2 linked regions of the Homo sapiens genome follow. The protein of the gene in region 1 interacts with the protein of each later gene in a biochemical or structural test. Each region holds a gene or a part of one and is shown in the gene's direction. Other genes may lie near its edges. The genes, in order: LYZ and LTF.

The links.
Region 2: the proteins of LYZ (region 1) and LTF form a complex in vitro, tested with the Homo sapiens proteins (one study listed by BioGRID).

The regions. Positions count from the first base shown.
Region 1 is NC_000012.12:69,351,154-69,354,810, forward strand, and holds the end of LYZ (lysozyme C precursor), read left to right. Parts: intron 1-1,066; coding exon 1,067-1,145; intron 1,146-1,999; coding exon 2,000-2,066; 3' UTR 2,067-3,081; downstream 3,082-3,657. UniProt on the Homo sapiens protein: Lysozymes have primarily a bacteriolytic function; those in tissues and body fluids are associated with the monocyte-macrophage system and enhance the activity of immunoagents.
Region 2 is NC_000003.12:46,440,812-46,448,114, reverse strand, and holds part of LTF (lactotransferrin isoform 1 preproprotein), read left to right. Parts: intron 1-716; coding exon 717-807; intron 808-1,621; coding exon 1,622-1,675; intron 1,676-2,678; coding exon 2,679-2,834; intron 2,835-4,532; coding exon 4,533-4,674; intron 4,675-6,631; coding exon 6,632-6,699; intron 6,700-7,303. UniProt on the Homo sapiens protein: Transferrins are iron binding transport proteins which can bind two Fe(3+) ions in association with the binding of an anion, usually bicarbonate. Lactoferricin binds to the bacterial surface and is crucial for the bactericidal functions.

The DNA.
Region 1 (3,657 bases):
GTTCCTGTAGAATTATTATTGTAAATAACAAATTAACTTAAGGATTTATTTATTTGGAGTGAAACAAATATTTTACTGAACTCATAAAAATAGAAATACCATGTGGAATCCTCAGTGTCAAAAATATTGCAGAAATCTTGCAAAGTTGATATTATTAAATTGTTAAATATTAAAATTCCCAATAAAGAACATTAATCTTATTTCTAAAATCCAGTTAATTAAAAAAATTTATATTATATAATAATATTTGGTCATTAAATAAAAATTAGAAAATACAAATAAGAAAAATAACACCCATAATCTTACTACCCAGAGGTTTATAACCATGGGTAAATTCTGGTATATATTCTTCCAGAATGTATATCAATCATGTGTATGAATGTTAAATTATATCATACACATATAAACCCACATACAAACATGTAAATACTGTGTGCTTTTGCAAAAATTAAATTGTATTATACACACGGCTTTACAATTTGCTTCTTATCACACAAAATTATTTGCATGTCAGCAAATACAAATCGGTTTTTAATGATCTTTTGCTCCATTTTCCAGATGAGAAAAAAATACAAATCTGTATCATCATTTTAAAAGAATGACTAGAATTTTAATATATGAATATTCTATAATTTACTGATCCAATTGTTACTATTGAGCACTTAGGTTGTTTCCATTTTTCCCTCATAAATTGCTATGAATAGCTTTTTGTATACATCTTTGGGTGCATTTCTTATTTCTTTTGGATAAATTTTCAATAATAGAACTGCTGAGTAAAATATCACTAGGTGTTTTTTTACAGTGTCTAGTGCAAAGAAGACCTTTAATCATTTTGTTAATACTTCCAGAGCTTCCAATGACTTTGGTAAATGAAGAAAAAAATGCTTCATTTCATGCTGAATGGGAGAGAATGAAGAGAGTTTTCCCCAACAATTACACATATATGGACTCATAGAAAATAATATCTTACCATTCTTTCCACAGCCTAACAGAAAAAAGCTGGCTAAACCTAAATTTAAAATAAAATATCTATTAAAGTTTTTATTCCTTACCACCTGTCTTTCAGCTTTGCTGCAAGATAACATCGCTGATGCTGTAGCTTGTGCAAAGAGGGTTGTCCGTGATCCACAAGGCATTAGAGCATGGTATGTTTTAAGTGTTAAAAGGGAAAACTATCTTACTCTACTGTTGATATATACAATGAGAGCAGACTTTTAAAGACCAAAGTATGCTAATGACACCTCAAAATTGCAGCTTTTGGCTTATGCTAAATGATGTATTACCTACATCCTTGAAGAAACAATCTACTTTAACTGATCCAGAATCTTACTCTTTTACTCCTCAATTTATTTTAGGGGATTTCTAGAGTTTTAAGATGCTTCACACTCTATCAGTTCCTTGTCATATCTTGAAATTCTTTTTAGAATAAGTAAGTGTGGGCCGGGCACAGTGGCTCACGCCTGTAATCCCAGCACTTTGGGAGACCGAGGCAGATGGATCACCTGAGGTCAGGAGTTCGAGACCAGCCTGCCTAACATGGCAAAACCCCATCTCCACTAAAAATACAAAAAATTAGCTGGGTGTGGTGGCAGGTGCCTGTAATCCCAGCCACTCGGGAGGCTGAGGCAGGAGACTTGCTTGAACCCGGGAGGTGGAGGTTGCAGAGGATTGCGCCATTGTACTTCAGCCTGGGCGACAGAGTGAGACTCTGTCTCAAATAAATACATAAAAAATAAATGTGGAATTCACTTTGCAGTTGCTGCTGTACAACGCACATTACTCAATCTTTATGTTCGGCATTCTATGCTCTACTGAGAAATTTGGGTAGGAGTGAAGTATTTTGTATACATATCTTCATTTAATAAATAGCAATAGCTGGGTCTATCTTACTATTTTATCTATTGATAAAATATTTTGTTTCCCCAAGGAGTGCGAAGTATGTATATTACAATGAAGATATGTTTTAACCTTTCACCATTTGCTTCATCTTTTTCTACAGGGTGGCATGGAGAAATCGTTGTCAAAACAGAGATGTCCGTCAGTATGTTCAAGGTTGTGGAGTGTAACTCCAGAATTTTCCTTCTTCAGCTCATTTTGTCTCTCTCACATTAAGGGAGTAGGAATTAAGTGAAAGGTCACACTACCATTATTTCCCCTTCAAACAAATAATATTTTTACAGAAGCAGGAGCAAAATATGGCCTTTCTTCTAAGAGATATAATGTTCACTAATGTGGTTATTTTACATTAAGCCTACAACATTTTTCAGTTTGCAAATAGAACTAATACTGGTGAAAATTTACCTAAAACCTTGGTTATCAAATACATCTCCAGTACATTCCGTTCTTTTTTTTTTTGAGACAGTCTCGCTCTGTCGCCCAGGCTGGAGTGCAGTGGCGCAATCTCGGCTCACTGCAACCTCCACCTCCCGGGTTCACGCCATTCTCCTGCCTCAGCCTCCCGAGTAGCTGGGATTACGGGCGCCCGCCACCACGCCCGGCTAATTTTTTGTATTTTTAGTAGAGACAGGGTTTCACCGTGTTAGCCAGGATGGTCTCGATCTCCTGACCTTGTGATCCACCCACCTCGGCCTCCCAAAGTGCTGGGATTACAGGCGTGAGCCACTGCGCCCGGCCACATTCAGTTCTTATCAAAGAAATAACCCAGACTTAATCTTGAATGATACGATTATGCCCAATATTAAGTAAAAAATATAAGAAAAGGTTATCTTAAATAGATCTTAGGCAAAATACCAGCTGATGAAGGCATCTGATGCCTTCATCTGTTCAGTCATCTCCAAAAACAGTAAAAATAACCACTTTTTGTTGGGCAATATGAAATTTTTAAAGGAGTAGAATACCAAATGATAGAAACAGACTGCCTGAATTGAGAATTTTGATTTCTTAAAGTGTGTTTCTTTCTAAATTGCTGTTCCTTAATTTGATTAATTTAATTCATGTATTATGATTAAATCTGAGGCAGATGAGCTTACAAGTATTGAAATAATTACTAATTAATCACAAATGTGAAGTTATGCATGATGTAAAAAATACAAACATTCTAATTAAAGGCTTTGCAACACATGCCTTGTCTGTTTTTATTTAGACTCCTATAGTGTCTCTGAAGAAAAGAATACAGATATTTGAAAAAATATGATTTGGTGCTCTTAATATCTCTTATATCGTCACTTACCTCACTTAAATAGTCAGATATTGCTGGAGAAAAATTCACAAGCATGCTGACAGGTCTCACTTTAAATTCATAACCATAAATCTCAAATGAGCCCTCAAGTCTGCCTGACCATTTTAGTTACTTCTCTACAATCCTTCCATTTTTATGTCCCTAGTCTCCAAAATGACTGTTACTATTTTACTTTTCCTCTTCTCTCTTCAAAGCCTCAAGACACACATTCAGCCTCCTCCTCTGCCCCCTTATCCTCCACCCTCCTCTGCTCTCAGCAGATAACCTGGCCTCATATTACACTTCTAAAACAAAAGCAACTTCATACCAAGCTTTCCCTTCTACATCCCAAAGCAGCAGTCATACCTTCCCACAGGCCCATCCTTCCTTCCTTCCCTCCTATTATCAGGATGAAGAGCCTCTGCTCCTGCCAACAGCACTGACTCCACATGCAGTTTCCCTCCCATCCCTCTCACTAC
Region 2 (7,303 bases), on another chromosome or scaffold:
TGGGATTACGGGTGTGAGCCACAGCACTCGGACGAAAACATTTTTTAAACATGCTTCCAGGATATCTTTTATGTGAATATGGCTCAGTTTAGTCATGCCCCCATTCCTCTTTGTCCCTTACTTTGCTATTATCAATAACCCTGTGGTGAGCATTCTTGAGTAGAAATCTTTGTCCACTTCTCTATTTTTAATATAGTTGTAAAAATATTACTGGGTCAAAGAGGAAGTTTCATACTACTGATGAGTCCATGATCCTGTGTTGTAGCCTGGACTTGTTCATTCTGGTGGTGGGCCAATATGACGACTTCAGCTTATGTGTTGGACAACTTCTGTGTAGCGCTTGGAGTGGAGTGCTAATGAGTTCAGATTAGATGAGGCCAGCTGTTCCCATCTGTGTCCTCAGTCAGTGAGACTGCTCCAGGAAGGTGTCCCCAAAGTGCCAGGGACACAGAAAAGGTTTTGCTCAGAGGACAGAGGATTAGTGCAACCTGTGCCTGGTCTTTCCAGTTGAATTGACAGCCCAGAAAGTAGGCAGGGCTGGGAGAGAATTAGTGGTGCACACGGTGTTTCCTCTGGCTGCTCAGTTTGAATAGTCCATCTCTTTCTGCTGTTTCACTGGTCACCTGACAGAAAACCATTCTCTCAGAGAGCTATATAGACAGGCAGGACGGGATGCAGCCTCACTGTGGTGCTGGAGATCTGCTCTGTCTTTGCAGAAAGGAGAAGCTGATGCCATGAGTTTGGATGGAGGATATGTGTACACTGCAGGCAAATGTGGTTTGGTGCCTGTCCTGGCAGAGAACTACAGTAAGTGGAGTTAGCATCCTCTGGTATATTCCCTCTGGGTCATGGGAGTGGGGCTATGAGTAATCCCATTCGGTGAATGCAGGTGAAACATTATGATGAACAGATACATTCAAAAGGGAGAATCAGGGAAAGAAGAAATGAAAGGGGCCGTGTTACCCACAAAGCCTATTGTGTTGAGAATTAACAAGGGACAGGTTGGTTTTATCTTCTTAATTTTCCAGAAGATCTCAGTGAATTATAACATACAAACAGAAAAGTGCACATAAATGTACAACTCATGGCACTTCACACACTGTACAGTCCATGCTCTCGGGCCCAGAACAAACACTGCAAGTTTCAGAAGCCCCTTATGTCCTCCTGTCCCCCGCCCCCTTACTCCTGCAAGGGAAGCCTCTCTCCTGGCTTCTAAGGTCGCAGATCTAAGTTTGCCTATGTTTTAAACTTCATGTTAAAGGAATTACACAGCATGTGTTTTTTTATGTCTGGTTTCTCTTGCTCATCGTTATGCTTTTCATCCACCTAAGTGTGTAGTTGTAGACTGTTCAGTCTCGTCGCTGTGTGAGTCTACTGTGATTATTCATCATTTGAGTGTGGATGGGCATTTGAGTAGTTTCCAGTTGGTGGCTGTGGTGAATAATGCAGCTGTGAATCTCTGTGCCATGTCTTTTGTTGAACATATAGACGCATTTCTCCTGCATGGAACTGCTGGGACGGTCTCTTTGGATTTGATTCTGCATCATTGAGATTTAAGAGTTTGTGGCTTCTCACTACATCTGAATGGATAATGATGTCTGGCTTGTCTTTATTCTTTCAGAATCCCAACAAAGCAGTGACCCTGATCCTAACTGTGTGGATAGACCTGTGGAAGGTGAGTTGGCATTAGCCACTTTCAGGGTCAAGGATAAGTTCTTGTTGCTGGAAGAGGAAGTGGCAGGAACTGTAAAAAAAACAGAAAGAATTGCAGCCCTAGAAGCTATAGGGCTTCTAGGAGCAATAATTTTAAGGGTGCAAATAATTCACAGAGGAATAGTTCTAATTAATGTTTATATTGACCTTCACACTTGGCAAAGAACATCCATATAGTCCCTCATTTTGTCATGGTCATGGAATGGGGGGTGCTACTTCCCCACCTCATGGGGATGAGGAAACAGTGGCACCGAGAGTCCCCAAGTGCCCAGGATCTCACTCACAGCCATAGGTAATACTGTGGTAGATCCTGGTCTTGACCCCGGGTCCTCGTGACCTGGGACTCGTGTCCCAGTGCTCTGTGCACCACTCCTCCTGCCCACCAGAGCTGGTGCTTGCTCAGTTTCAGAAAAGACTTGCCCTTGGTGGGTGTCTGTCAGATGCATTCTCTCAGGAGGACAACGGCAACCATGTTGAGTTCAACCAGTGCAGGGTGGGTTCAGACTCAGCTCAGGGCAGTCCCTGGGGACATGTGCCCCTGTACCCACACAGCCGTTAGCTGGCTGGATGTTGGTGCTCTTGCCTGATGCACACTGTGGTTGGTGATTTATGCACTGTTGGGGTCTCTCTTGTTGTTTATAGTGTTTGTTGCTGTAGAAGCTTACACTGAGAGATGCATTGCTGGTTTGTAACTCAGGGACATTGTGTGGCTGGTTGAAGACAGTCCCCTGTAATCACTAAAATAATCAGCTTTTCTTACTGTTTTATTTCATCAATCTCACCTTAACATAAGGCAGCAGCTTATGCTTTCTCGGTCTACCTAAAAAGGCCAGTTCTTTGAGGGAATCATTGCCTGGTGTTGCTTCTTGGCCTGTTTTGGCCTGGGCTGTAGACAGCTCCACTGGAATCCATGTGCCAGGCCTCCTGGAGGTTAAGACTTGTTTTTCTGTCATCTGTTATGCCAGGATATCTTGCTGTGGCGGTGGTTAGGAGATCAGACACTAGCCTTACCTGGAACTCTGTGAAAGGCAAGAAGTCCTGCCACACCGCCGTGGACAGGACTGCAGGCTGGAATATCCCCATGGGCCTGCTCTTCAACCAGACGGGCTCCTGCAAATTTGGTAAGGAGTTCCAAAGGTGCGGTGGGTGGGCCACCCTGGAGGGTAGGCATATTGTGCTGTGGAACCTTAGGGAAGGGAGGGGAGGGGATTTGCAGGCTGATAGTGGCCTGCAGGCCTCTTCCAGCATAAGGAAATTCTCCCTGTGGCTGCCCCCTGGAGGCGTGGGTGCACTGGGGGTTTCCCTGCACAGCACTTCCCATGCCCCATTCACCCCACCCCAAGATTAAAGATTGGAATATCTGCCTATTTCGCTGCACCCTAAGAATAAATGCAAGTTCCAAGATGTGCAAATGCTTTTTACCTCTTGGAGCTCCAGACCTAAATTCCTCTTAAACTCTGGCTTCCCAGCTTGGGGAAAGATGTCTGCCTGCCTCATGAAAGGTGACTCCTGTTACTAAGCAAAACTGACGCTTACTCTACACTGCAACGGAGCCTGAATAAGACCTCAAGAGCCTGGCTCCACCTGCTTCTGCAGTTTTCTCTCCCCACCACACCCCACACTCATCCTAGTCAGCATCAGCCACACCCTGCCTGCTGTGGGCCCCGTGGCATGGTGTGTAGCACATCCTCAATGTGACTCCCTTCTTGTATGGGCGTCTCCTAGGGCAGGGGCTCCACTGCATGGGTTTTTGATCCTGGCCGGGGCAGGCAGCTTTCACGTGGCTCTGCTCCTCACCAGCTCCATGGCAGCCTCTGAGCTGTAGGGAAACTGCCAGGATGGAATGGGAACTCCCAGCTTTTCCTGAGGTTGACACATAGTGTGGCTCTTCCAGCAGCAGTGGGAGTCTGATAATGGGTGACGTTTGCTCAGTGGGGCAGAGCTTTCTTGTCACCTTTGTTTATTCTTTCTTGGGTTAAATCACACAATGAACGAATTCAGATCAGGTTCAGCTGCAAGGAACAGAAAACTCCTGAAATAGTAGAGGCTTAAACAAGACAGAAGTTAATTTCTGTGTCATGTAGTCCAGAGGTGGTTTGCCTAGGGCTGGTATGAAGACAATATGGGGTCTGGAACCTGGGCTTTAATCATTTGGCTACTCTGCCATTTGTGTGGCTTTCATGCTCAAGGTCACCTCATGGCCCACATTGCATCTCTAAGTCCAGTCCCTGCTTCTGCATTCTATGTGCAGGATGAAGAAAGAGAAGGAGAAGAAAGGGCAAAAGGCATGTACCAATTGTCTTTCAAGGATGTTTCTGAGAAGCTGGCGCCCAACACTCCTGCTGATATTTCACTGGCCTATAGCTACCCATATGGCCATATGAGCCCCAGGGAGTCTGATAAGTCTAGTCTTTATACCAAAGGGCCAAGCACCCAGATACAAAGCAGGGTTTCCATTACTGATAAAAACAAAATCAGATCCTGGACTAGGCAACTCACAGGCTCTGCTGCACACAGCCATCACGGTCATGAGCTGAGTCCCCAGCTCAAGGCTGTGATGACGGGACCCTCCAGGCAGCCACAGCTCTCATCCCCAGCCTTAGTTGGGTGTCCATCTGTGCCTACAGTCTGAATGAAGCTTTTCTGGTGGGTCCTATGTTGGTGACAACATGTTGCTTTGTGATGGTGAGTGTGTTCTATCTAGATTGCTGTCCTGGGAAGTCTAATGAACTGAAACCACCCTGCATCGGCTGTTAGGTAAAGGTTGCTTGTGTGGACTCAGGTTTGAAGAGCTGACTCCCCGTGTTCCTTCTCTCCAGATGAATATTTCAGTCAAAGCTGTGCCCCTGGGTCTGACCCGAGATCTAATCTCTGTGCTCTGTGTATTGGCGACGAGCAGGGTGAGAATAAGTGCGTGCCCAACAGCAACGAGAGATACTACGGCTACACTGGGGCTTTCCGGTGAGTCTGTGACTGAGCTCCATCAGGATGGGGACTTACCTCATCCCTCAGCATGTCAGCATTGCAGTTCTAAGGAGCCAGATGTGACCTGTCACAGCAGAGTGGGGGTCATCCTGTGGGTCAGCTCATGGGTGGCCCCAGTGAGGGCTGTCCCCACCACACCCACCGCCCCAGAGAGTGGAGGCTGGCACCAGGGCTGTCTGACCTCAGCTCCGCAGTGCTTCTCCCTGTGGCTTTGAGCCAAGATCAACAGCAGTAGGCCTCAATAGCCTCGTCCTGAAAATCAAATGGGTAGAGTGTGGTATCCTAAGTGCTTCCTACAATTCCATTTATGGGGAAGAATTCTCTTTCCCATCGCCGCCCCTTTTCTTCTCACCTAGGTCATGACTATGGCTTAGGTTTCCCTTTTTCTCTGACTTTGGCCTTAGAAATGGCAAAGAGATGGCAGAATTGCAGTGTTATTCTCCAGTAACGAAGTGAAAAATAAGCCAAAAAACAAGTTTTCAGAATTCATAAGTTATAACCACTTAGTGACTTGTAACCACACCCCACGTTTTACAGCACCATTCATCCGGGTGTTGCTTCTCAGGGGCACTATTTACCAGTGTGAAGGGTGCAGAGAGGATCTTCCCCTGTTCCTTTTCCTCCATTTGCCAAGAGTACATTTCACGACCAGATGGCGTCATGTGTCTGAGGGTGTCTGAACTTTTTAATATAAATTCAACAGCCTTGTTCCAGTAATGGAATGACAGAAAAGTAGCTTTTGCTATATAAGTGGCTCATAAAAAAAGACCCAAAACAAAAAAAAATGTTTTGTGAATGTATAAAAATATCTTTAAGGGACTAAGGATTTGCAAATGGAAATGTGATTCTACTCAGAAATGCTGAACACATGTCTCATAAGAGCCCGAAAGAAGCATGTGCTCCTCTTTTTTTTTTTTTCAGACCTGCAGCAAGGTATTAGTTCACTGGAAACACCCACATTTTAATATTCCTAATTATACTGGAAGAAAATCCCTTGTCTTTTGTTTAAATTATATCTAGAATCTAGATTGGGGAAATTTATAGCAAAATCATTAAAAGCTGAAACCAGTGTCATACCCCTTTATTTCTATCATCCTTATAATGCTGGTTCTTAATTTTTAACTTTCTGCTGACTCTGTAGTATAGAAGAAGATCTAGCCTCTCACACTGCCCCCAGCACCTTTTCCACCACACAACCACAGACTTCAACTCTCTTCAGCACCCAACACGCTAATGTCATATTCAGTACTTATGACTGTGTAAGCGTTATTCTCATATTATATTTCCCTTATTGTACAAACTTTTTGTTTACTCTGGAGTTCATAAATGTCTTTTCTTATTTGCTTAATTTTCTGCACTTAAAAAAACACATCACTATCTCATCCCCAAACTGTCTGCCAGTAATGTAAATCTCCTAACAACATGCATACACACACACACACACACACACACACACACACACACACACACACACACACACACTCTCTCTCTCTCTCTCTCTCTCTCTCTCTCTCTCTGGGTGCTATCACAGTTTCATCATTTACTTGGAAGTGCTGCTCCAGAAGGCATCCATCTTCCTGCTGCAGTTTGGACTGGTTGCTGTGTAGGCCGCCTGCACATCTGTGGTCCTGGGGGTCCTGTTGACCATTATTTTGGTGCTTTCCTTTGTCTTACTTCATGTTAGATTGCCTGTTTCCTGGGTCGCATATCTTTAGATTTCTTGGTTTTGTAATGTCTTTTATATAGGGTTTTAAAAGGAGGGCAGGTACACCTGTGTTCAATCTGCCGCTGTAAACAGTAAATTCCTAGAAATAGTTGTCTTTTAGATGTTTACTTCCATATTTCAGTTTTTGGAATGCATATTACAAATATTTATGAAAGCCCCACTAGTTTCTCTTCTGTAATTATGTGTATATTTTCTGGAACATTTTAGGTGCCTGGCTGAGAATGCTGGAGACGTTGCATTTGTGAAAGATGTCACTGTCTTGCAGAACACTGATGGTAGGTGAAGGTGTTTCCTTTTCTCCTTCAAAGCAGAGTCTTTGGCATCACAACACATCTTAGTGTTCAGATTTGCCTTTGGGAAGGTTTTATAACATTTTCCATATTTGTGATTAAAAGAACTCCAAAATTCTTTATCTCAATAGACAACATGATAACATCTGTAGGTGTCATATGGATTTTGAAACGAAATTCATACACACACACTCTCTCTCTTTCTCTCACACACACACACACACTCACTCTCACACACACAGATACTAGCCATGCTCAGTAGCAAATGTCTCCCTGGCTTCCTCTAGTCAACCACAGAAACACACTGTCTGCCCACATGAGATCATGCATGCCTATTGGAAACTGTGGATGATGCTACAAACTGGGTGAACATATGCAAATGAAGCCTCCCTTTATGAAAAAGGAAGTAGAGGCCTTCATTCATCCCCATGTGAGCCTTGGTCTGGAGACTCCTTGGGAGTTAGTGGGAACAAAATTACAGGTGGTTGCAGATGATGGAAGATAATCTTCCAGCCAATGTTTGAACAATCACTCTCTCTCCTGGTCCTCAGCCATTTGCTACCTTCCAATCTGCATCTGTCTCCTTAGC